3 separate regions of the Homo sapiens genome follow, and regions 2 and 3 are each reported to be linked to region 1. The links are microRNA targets in miRTarBase. Many come from high-throughput screens and were not tested one by one. Region 1 holds a microRNA gene; each other region holds the end of a gene's coding sequence. Distances are between the middles of the regions.
Evidence for each region. The annotated mature microRNA hsa-miR-1295a reads UUAGGCCGCAGAUCUGGGUGA and lies in region 1 at 1,269-1,289, shown strand. An mRNA with a match to its seed (bases 2 to 7 or 8) in the 3' UTR can be bound and repressed. Matches are read on the target gene's strand: a 7mer-m8 pairs with bases 2 to 8, a 7mer-A1 pairs with bases 2 to 7 and ends in A, and an 8mer does both.

Region 1 (3,348 bases):
TAAGCATTTTAAGACCTAATTTTTAAAAAATTAACCTTAGAATTTCTATAATGTATAAAATAAGGTTAACTATTTTGAATCTAACACAGAATTTATGGGCATTGCATGCCTTTTAAGCACTTATGTAAGTAACAAAGTTTTAGCTTTCAATGATGTAAAAATATCTGAATTTTCTTTAACTCTAAGGAATTATAGAACTATGCTAATAAAGCCTTAGAGGAAATGTTAAGTGATGATGAATAAAGAAAAAGAACATTGAAGAAAGAATGATCAGTAATGAGAAGTTTAGGATATTGTGTTGTGGTTCTTTAGCCACACACTGAAATAAACTGGGAGCTTTAAAAAACACACTGAGCATTAGGTCCCACTCTCAGAGAATTTGATTTAATTGACAGCAAGTTTTAAAAGCTCTTCAGGTAATTTTAAGGTGCAGCCAAGTTTGTCAGTCACAATGTAGAGTTCAACAAATGGAAGCTCATGACCAACAGGCTACAGTTACTGTGGAAGAGCTTACCATAGGACACATCTGTTACAGCTGTGAGCTCTGCAAAGCAAGCTGTTGAATGAATAAAAGGCATTAAGTTAAAAAAAAATACTGGTTGGAGCATGATTAGGAAGAGGTGGAGCCTTGGTTTAGCTCTGTTGAAGCATCAAGGTACTTATATCTCAAGTTTCATGATGAAAGATCAGATTGTAGATCTCTATGTGTAGTTGCTAGTTCATAGTGGAAAGTACTGAGCACTAGAAACTTCTAATTAGAGCTCATCTAACTGAAAGTTGTCAGGGCTCCCAGAACATGAAATTTTAGTATAATATTGGAATATTACAATCACGTCAAAAGCCAATGTGGCTGCAGTTTCATTATTGACAAATAATTAATTGGCAGATTAGTTGCCATGTTCATTTCAGAAAGCAGCGTGTTCTTTAAATAGGACATGAGTTTTCTGCTGCTCACATGGTTTGTTGACTCTGCTATAGGCATGTGGGATGGGGAAGTGCAAAAATTTGTAGCTTTCTGTGAGTTGGGTAAGTTTAAAGAGATGATAATCAGCATAAAGAGAGAAGAAACATTAAAGAAAAAAATTGATACATAGTCCAGAAAAAAATCAGAGGAAGTTAAAAAAGGGAGGTATTCCCAGAAGAAAGCCACTATTCATAAAACTTCATGCAAAAATTCATATGATTTACTGATTTATTGTTTGGGGAGCTCCTGAGAAAAGAGGACATTTTGCCCAGATCCGTGGCCTATTCAGAAATGTGGCCTGTGATTAGGCCGCAGATCTGGGTGAAATGTCCTCCTTCTGTGACCAAAGAAGGTGAGGGAAATACATCATCGTGGCTCTAGATCAGGGTTAGAAGTCAGAACTAGAAGGGCATAGAAAGTGCTGTAGTAAACAGCTCCAACAGTTTCAACTATATGCACCCTTAGTGTTAGCTAAGTTTTAACCAATGTTTGGATCTCTCTGAAATTTAAAAAAAGTTAAGATAATGTAAAATGATGATGTTAGAAACCAAAGGGAAGGCAAATACAAAATTAGAACAATTTTATAACAATCTTATAATGTGAATACTAAGCCTATTGCTGCAGACTTCTAGTGATCTGAGAAACACTGCTGTTTGCTCCATCATTTGCAATCTATAAGCCCCCTCACAGTAGTAAAATAGGAAACGCTGAAAAACCAAAGGTATTAGTTTCTTGTGGCTGCTGTAATAAATTACCACAAAGTTAATGGCTTAAAATAATAGCAATTGATTCACAGTTCTAGAAGTCAGCAGTCGGGAATCACTATCAGTAGGCTGAAAACGAAGTGTGACAGTACCATGTTCATTTTCAGAGGCTCCAGGAGAGAATCCATTCCTTGCCGCTTCTGGCTTCTGGTGGATGCTGGCATTTCTTATTTTTTTCAGTGGCAAGACCCCTCTTGTACGCCTTCACTCATGGCTCCTCTGGCCATCATCAAAGATAGAGCATAGCATCTTCAAATTTCTCTCTTTCTGTTGAGGTCATCACATCACCTTCTCTCTTCTCTTTGTGTTAAATCTCCCTCTGCCTCTCTCTTTTAACGATGCATTCATTATAGCGTTTGGGGCTCACCCACATAATGCAGAAAAATCTCTCCATCTTAAGATTTTTAACTTAATTATATTTGCAAATACCCTTTTCTCTTGTAAGTAAGATAACATTTACAGGTTCCAGGAATTTGGATGTGATATCTTTGAGGAGGGGCATTGTTAAATTGTTCAGCCTATTACAGGCCATCCTCTGGTTCCCAAGGATTCACATCCATCCCATCTGCAAAATACATTAACCCAATCCCAACATCCTCAAAGTCTCAACCCATAGCAGCATGAAATCAAGTCTCAACTCTCATTTATATATTTTCAATTCAAAAGTCCAAAATCTCATCATCATATAAATTATCTAAATCAGGTATAAATGAGACTCTGGATATGGACCAGGATGAGGCAAAATTTCTATCTGTGAACCTGTGAAACTAGAAAACAAGTTATCTTCTTCCAAAATACAATGGTGGGACAAGCATGGGTAACCGTTATCGACATTCCCATTTAACCGGGGAGGAAAAAGGAGGAAAGAAAAGAATCACTAATCCCAAGCAATTTTGAAATCCAGTAGGACAAATTCCTTCAGGCTTGAAGGCTTTGGCTCAGGCCTCTGCCCTCAGGGCCTGAGGCTCTACCCTCTGGGCTATCCTTTCTTTTTCTTGAAGGGTAGCACATGTTGCAGTTCAGTTTTATCAACCTATGCTGCCAGGTTCAAATTTTAAAGTCTTCCTCGAGCAGCAAGAAAAGACAAATTAGCTGTCTTTGGCTGTGTTCCTCTCAATAGCCATATCAGCAGTGCGTTCTATCTTCAGCAACGTCTTGCAAACTAAATTTGAGTATGAGGCTTTGGTTAAGATCACTGTGTATAAGATATGGCTGGCCAGGAGTGGTGGCTCATGCCTATAATTCCAGCACTTTGGGAGGCCGAGGCGGGTGTATCACCTGATGTCAGGAGTTCGAGACCAGCCTGGCCAACATGGCGAAACCCCATCTCTACTAAAAATACAAAAATTAGCGGGGCGTGATGGCACACACCTGTAATCCCAACTATTCGGGAGGCTGAGGCAGGAGAATCCCTTGATCCCAGGAGGTGGAGGTTGTAGTGAGCTCAGATTGTGCCATTGCACTCCAGCCTGGGCAACAAGAGAGAAACTCTGTCTAAAAAAAAAGAAGAAGAAAAAAGAAAAAAAAAAAAAAAAAAAAGAAAGACATGGTCAGCTCGATAGGCCACTTGGTGAAATGGCAACCAGCAATTTACAAAGGAGTTAAGAATAGACTAGAGAG
Region 2 (3,000 bases), 120 Mb from region 1:
CATCTCCACATGACAGGGAGGAAGCTTGTTCCCCACAACAGGAACCTCAGGGCTGCAGGTGCCCGCTGGACCGCTTCCAAGACTTTGCCCTGATTGATGCCCCAACGTTGGAGGATGAGCCCCAAGAGGGGCAGCAGTGGGAAATAGCCCTGCCCAACAACTGGCAGCGGTACCCAAGGACAAAGGTGGAGGAGAAGGAGGCTTCGGACACAGGTGGGGAGGAACCTGAGAAGGAAGAGGAAGACCTGTACTATGGGCTGCCAGATGGAGCCGGGGACCTCCTCCCGGACAAGGAGCTGGGTTTTGAGCCTGACACCCAAGGCTGAGATGTTTGTGCTCCGTAGCTTCTAGTCTGGAACTGCTGCTGACCCCTGTGTGACATCACAGGGCCTCAGTTTCCCTATCTGCAAAATGGGATGATATGGAGGTTCAATGAGATGGTGGCATTTTGAGAATGGTAAAGAAATACACAGGGAGGGGATGATGACTATTAGTGGACTCTTGTTTTTCCAATAGTTAGTGGTCTTTGGCCAACCTTTGAAGGCAAAATATGATTTGTTGAGGTTTGCAGCAGCTGAAGCCCTCAAAAGCATTTTCCACCTTCCCCCAAAGCTGACCTCTGAGAGGAACCTTCCTTGGTGCTCCCTCTGGGCCCCTGATCCTTTGTGAAGGCCAGTCAGGTTTCCCATTCCTATTGTGTCTTATAGTCCACTTGGTAGATGGCGTGATCCGTCTTTACACAGAGGGAGCCTCATCTCCTCCTGGGCCACATTCCTCCTGCAGCTCCCATCGCTCCTTGGCCAGGACCCAAAACCTTCTGTGACTGACCCCTGCTGACCTCATTCTCTCTGCTCCTCCAGTTCCAAGCCTAGCCCCCCTGCCCATCTTGCGGCTCACACTCTTGCCCAAGCTGTTCTCCTCCACCAGGATGCCCTTGGCTCCCTTTTCAGCTTGGCAAATTCGTGCTCACCCTTCAAACCCCTACACAGATGACCTCCCTTGGAAAGGTTTTCCTGATGTCGCTGCCTCCTGGAACCAGGTGGTCTTGCCTCTCTGCGCTGCCTTTGGGACCTGTATATTTGTCAGTGTGGCATGGCTGCCTGCCTCCCGTTGAAGGGCAGCATCTTGACTTTACTCACCTTGAGATCGCCTGTGCCCAGATGGGCCTTTGGCCTGGCCCAGAATCGGTGGTCATCAAGGGTGTACAGAACTCACCAGGACCCAGGAACCTGTTGCAGATAAAATCACTCTCCCCCACGTTCCCAACTTTTAGACTCACAGCCCTCTTACTTCCCAGCATTCAAACTTCTAAATGGCCTGTATGTATTCACAAAGCAGGCAAAAAGCCCCCAGAGGAACACCACCCCCCACCCCTGCCTCTGGAATACATTTGCTTTGACTTGGAATTGTAGGTGAAATTCATCTTCCTGGCCTACTTCAGTTTGAATCAGTTGGCTAGCCAGGTGCGGTGGCTCATGCCTGTAATCTGAGCATTTTGGGAGGCTAAAGTGGGTGGATCACTTGAGGCCAGGAGTTGGAGAGCAGCCTGGGCAACATAGCGAAACCCTATCTCTACTAAAACTACAAAAATTAGCTGGGCGTGGTGGTGCACACCTGTAGTCTCAGCTACTTGGGAGGCTGAGCTGGAGGATAGCTTAAGCACAGGAGATGGAAGTTGCAGTGAGCCGAGATCGCACCACTGCACTCCGGCCTGGGTGACAGAGTGAGACCCTGCCTCAAAACAAAACAATTGGAATTGGATGGCATTTAGTGAGCATCTACTATATGCCAGATATTGAGCTGTGATCTCTAGGGGTAAAGAGACATGAACTACTGACACCGTGCTTGCCTTCAGAGGGCTCACAATCTAGTGAGCTTGATTTCTGTGAGTGCAGAGCAGAAGCTGAGGTGGGAACAGAGAAGTAAAAAATGGACACACCAGAGGCAGAAGAGTGACAGCCTCCCAGCTGTTTGGGGCAGTTGAGTATGGTGGGGAAATAGCTCAAGCTGTCTTTGCAGCCCCTGAAGACATCACTGTACCCTATTGAACCATCTCAGGGTGATGCTATTGTTACGCTGATCCCTGCAACGCTTGCCTGTGCCCCAGCCCAGGATCCTGGCAGCTGCAGAGAAAATGGCAGTAACACTACCTCAAACCAGGACCACGCCCTCAGAGCCTGCACCCTGGGCCACCTGGGAGTCAGAGACCTTCACCTGGGCTATGGGGTTCTGGGTTGAGGCTGGGGTTCCCGGCCTAGGGAAGGGCTTCCGGGTTGAGGCCGGGGGTCCTGGCCTAGGGAAGGAGATGCCCCTGTGTGCTGGGTTACAAGGTCATGGCCCTGGGAACACACTTCCTTTTCTTTCTGGGTCATTTCTGCCTCTGCAGTGAAGGATGCCACAGGGTACACCCTCTCTGCTGTCATGACTCAGGACAGGAGTTCCTGGTCACAGCTGAGTCTTCGGATGAGGTGAGGGGTAGCATGCTCCTGTGCTCTGTTGCCTAAGGCAGGGCAGCCTACAACCCACGTTAGAAACAGCGTCAGCACTAAGGGCTAAAATAAAACTACTTTCAACATTTAAAGGGGTCATCTTCATTCACCTGCAAATTCTTTTCTTTAAAACCACCCCTTCCCTCGGGGCAGGATACGTGAGGCCTTACGCCTGACGGGCACCAGAGGCCCTCTTCCGGAAGTAAGCCCTCACTGCAGTGGCATGACCGTGGGGTGTGCTGTGTGGTGCTGAATCTCAGGAGTGATTCCCCACACCCCTGAACCACAACCGCAGTGGCTTTAGACTTAAACAAGAGCCTCTGGTTGCTGGGCCTGCCAGCAGGAAGATGGTAACCCTGTTCTAGAGTTAGCATCTGCAGGGGGCTTGGGGTAGTGGAGTGAGATGGTGAGACCCAGGCTTGGTCTCCCTGGCTCTTGCTGCATGATGGGGAGACCACACACCTGATCTGCCCAGGAAGGTCCCGGTTGACACCGACTGCCTCTGCTAAGT
Region 3 (3,000 bases), 160 Mb from region 1:
ACATGGTGAAACCCCTTCTCTACTAAAAATAGAAAATCAGCCAGGCATGGTGGCGCATGCCTGTAATCCCAGCTACTCGGGAGGTTGAGGCAAGAGAATCACTTGAACCCGGGAGGCGGAGGTGGCAGTGAGCCCAGATTGCGCCACTGCACTCCAGCCTGGGCAACAAGAGCGAAACTCCATCTCAAAAAAAAAAAAAAAAAAAAAAAAGGATAAAAAGGCCACTGCCATCAATAATGGGATGAATTGTCATCCTGGAGAATGGTGCTGCTGCAGGTCTGACCGGCACAAGCTAGACCTGACAGAGGCCTTGGCTCCCTGTCTCCGAACCTCCTTCCCTAAACCCTGTACAGCTTCCTGGGCCAACTCTAGCCCCAGTACGGCCACCTGACCCACAGCTGATAGCTCCCTCTAGAGGCAACGATTTTTCTTTACTGATAGGGACTGAAGAAAAAGACTTGACCTTCATACAGGCCGCATTTAAAGCCTGAAGGCAAACCTAGATTGAATGCAAATGCAATTACAGGGCACCAGTTTCATTCTTCCAGAGCCTTGCTGCAAATGACCTCCAGTGAGTATAACTGTAAGATACACGAAAGTGGAGAAAGGCAAAACATTGATGGTGATGGATTGTCTTAAAATTCTTTACAAGGCCAGCACAGTAAAACATCATATGAATGAGCCAGATTTCAACATAAATAAGGGGCAACTAAGAAGCTAGACTCAATTGTCTCAAAGGTATCAAAACTAATCACCATAGCAAGGTTTCCTGTGCTTATTTTAAGTCCTTTGCTGTTGGGTCTAAGAGGTGCTGAGGGGCCACTGTAAAATACTAAAGACAATGATAACCAACAGTTGTATAAGTGTATATAAGTGTTAAAACCCACACATCCTAATAGTCTTACAATGTGATCATGCTGGGAAGATGGAATTCTGTCAAAGCGGTGGTCACAATACCAGTTTGAACCTCAGCCCCAGGAAGTATCCTGCTGTCTTAAATGCAGAAATGATGTGACCTGGTCCCATCACCCGTTTACACAAACCACTTCCAACCTAGAGGACAGAGTCGGAAGCACCAGGGAGAACGTGGAGAATGGCAGTCTGGTCACCAGCCGCCGGCACCCCCAGGAAAAAGCTCTAAATGGCAGGGTTGTTCATAGGTGCAAGTTCAGGTCCAGCCTCCCACAGGCAATAATGGAGCTTTCCCAAGAGCTGGTCTGCCAGTCCTTCTTCCTTCAAAACAGCCCAGTCTCCAGCTCTGCCCTGTGGTTGTCTCTGGCCTCAGATCAGAAGTCAATTTGGACAAATCTACTTTTATAAGAGCCCCCAGAAGAGGTTTTCCAGATTATTATTTTTTTTTTTTGAGATGGAGTCTTGCTCTTGTTGCCCAGGCTGGAGTGCAGTGGCGTGACCTCGGCTCACTGCAAGCTCCGCCTCCTGGGTTCATGCCATTCTCCTGCCTCAGCCTCCTGAGTAGCTGGGACTATAGGCGCCCACCACCACGCCCAGCTAGTTTTTTGTATTTTTAGTAGAGACGGAGTTTCACTGTGTTAGCCAGGATGGTCTCAATCTCCTGACCTCGTGAACCGCCTGCCTTGGCCTCCCAAAGTGCTGGAATTACAGGCGTGAGCCACTGCGCCTGGCCCCGAGGTTTTCCAGATTTGAAAGAAATTTCCTCAGCATAAAACCTCAGGATTAAAAAAAAGGAAGGGCTCTTGGGTCCAAATTTATATCTATCAAACCCGTTTAAATTTTTCTTTTCTTTTTTAAAAGATAAGGTCTTACTCTGTCGCTCAGGCTGGAGTAGTTGGTGTACTCCAGCCTGGAACTCCGAGGCTCAAGCAATCCTCCCGCCTCAGCCTCCCAAAGTGCTAGGATTACAGGTGTGCATGAGCCACCATGCCCAGCCCTATCTATTAAACCTTGATTGAATATAACAGACCAAGTACAACTGCACCAAATGGATGGGCTGTAACCATCCACACTGGCTCCAAGGAAGCAGACCGCTGGACCCCAGCTCTGCACATGGCTCAGGCAAGGCCCGTGGCGAGCCCTTGTATCCATTATGCTTGAGATCCTGCAGGTCGGCCTTCTTCCTTCCTTCTCGGTACATTGTAATGGCCCCAGTTTCCTTATTTTTATCCTGATTCTAATAACCAGGTCCCTGAAGAACTTTCTGAGGAATCTCTGTTTTAATGGCACACAAACTGTTCTCTGCTGTTTTACTCCCTCTGGACAGCAAGTATGAGTATCACACAGAAGACTAGAACAAATTCTAGCTCATGCAGCTTTAAAAGAGAAACTTAAGACTACTATATGACATTCACGAATTACACAAAAAACACTGTTGCTAATAAGGGCACCATTCATGGCCATGAAACTCCATCATGTCTCTTGTGGTCAGGCTTGAGACAAAGCTTTCTGGTAGGAAAGTTTCTTCCCTTATTAAAAACGCGAGCATCACTTCATTTTTCGACAGAACTTAGGTCTTCGGTATGGTTTCTCTTTATGTGCCTCCTCAGGTTCTCTTGCTCCAATTTTCTCTGATGCTCCAGGAAGTTTAAAATTGTAATCCGTTGTGACATAAGGTACTGTCCCTTCGATCCCACGCTGAAACGGAAACACAGAGAATGCATGGAAACACTCCAGGTCCAGCCCAGAGGGGTTTACAGTGCTCTCTCACACCTAGAAGGCAGTGTCATGGTGATGGTCTGGGTGGGGACTTCTCACTTTTAAGGCATTTGATCCCTTCCTTCAGAGCCCCCTTTAATCAACTGGCTCGGTAACAAACGTGCCAAGGCCTCCCTTCTGTCCCATTCCATCAACACAGCAAACAGCGTGAGGCAGAGTGGGGGTGCAGTGTGCGTCCCTTTCAAATGAGGGACACTGGAGGATGAGAATGGTAGGAATATCCCCCGTTCCCAGAGCCCACTCGCAGTCCCTGTGGCTGGCTCTGGGGCACACAGACGCCTTGACCTGGTCCCGTGATGCCTCTGAAGA

Region 2: the mRNA of BSND is a reported target of hsa-miR-1295a. Seed matches in the 3' UTR shown: 7mer-m8 at 2,251-2,257.
Region 3: the mRNA of NOL9 is a reported target of hsa-miR-1295a. The part of its 3' UTR that is shown has no 7-base or 8-base seed match.

What each region holds. Positions count from the first base shown.
Region 1 is chr1:171,099,679-171,103,026 of GRCh38, reverse strand. MIR1295A (microRNA 1295a) reads left to right here and starts at 1,221; the gene lies at 1,221-1,299. All of the region lies in intron 2 of FMO3 (flavin containing dimethylaniline monoxygenase 3), which reads right to left. MIR1295B (microRNA 1295b) reads right to left here and starts at 1,288; the gene lies at 1,229-1,288.
Region 2 is chr1:55,008,303-55,011,302 of GRCh38, forward strand. It overlaps BSND (barttin CLCNK type accessory subunit beta), which reads left to right. Exons shown (of 4, transcript NM_057176.3): 4 at 1-3,000. The coding sequence ends at 326. Among named protein-coding and RNA genes, the nearest start is that of BSND, 11 kb to the left of the region's middle.
Region 3 is chr1:6,523,394-6,526,393 of GRCh38, forward strand. It overlaps NOL9 (nucleolar protein 9), which reads right to left. Exons shown (of 12, transcript NM_024654.5): 12 at 1-2,610. The coding sequence ends at 2,461. Among named protein-coding and RNA genes, the nearest start is that of NOL9, 30 kb to the right of the region's middle.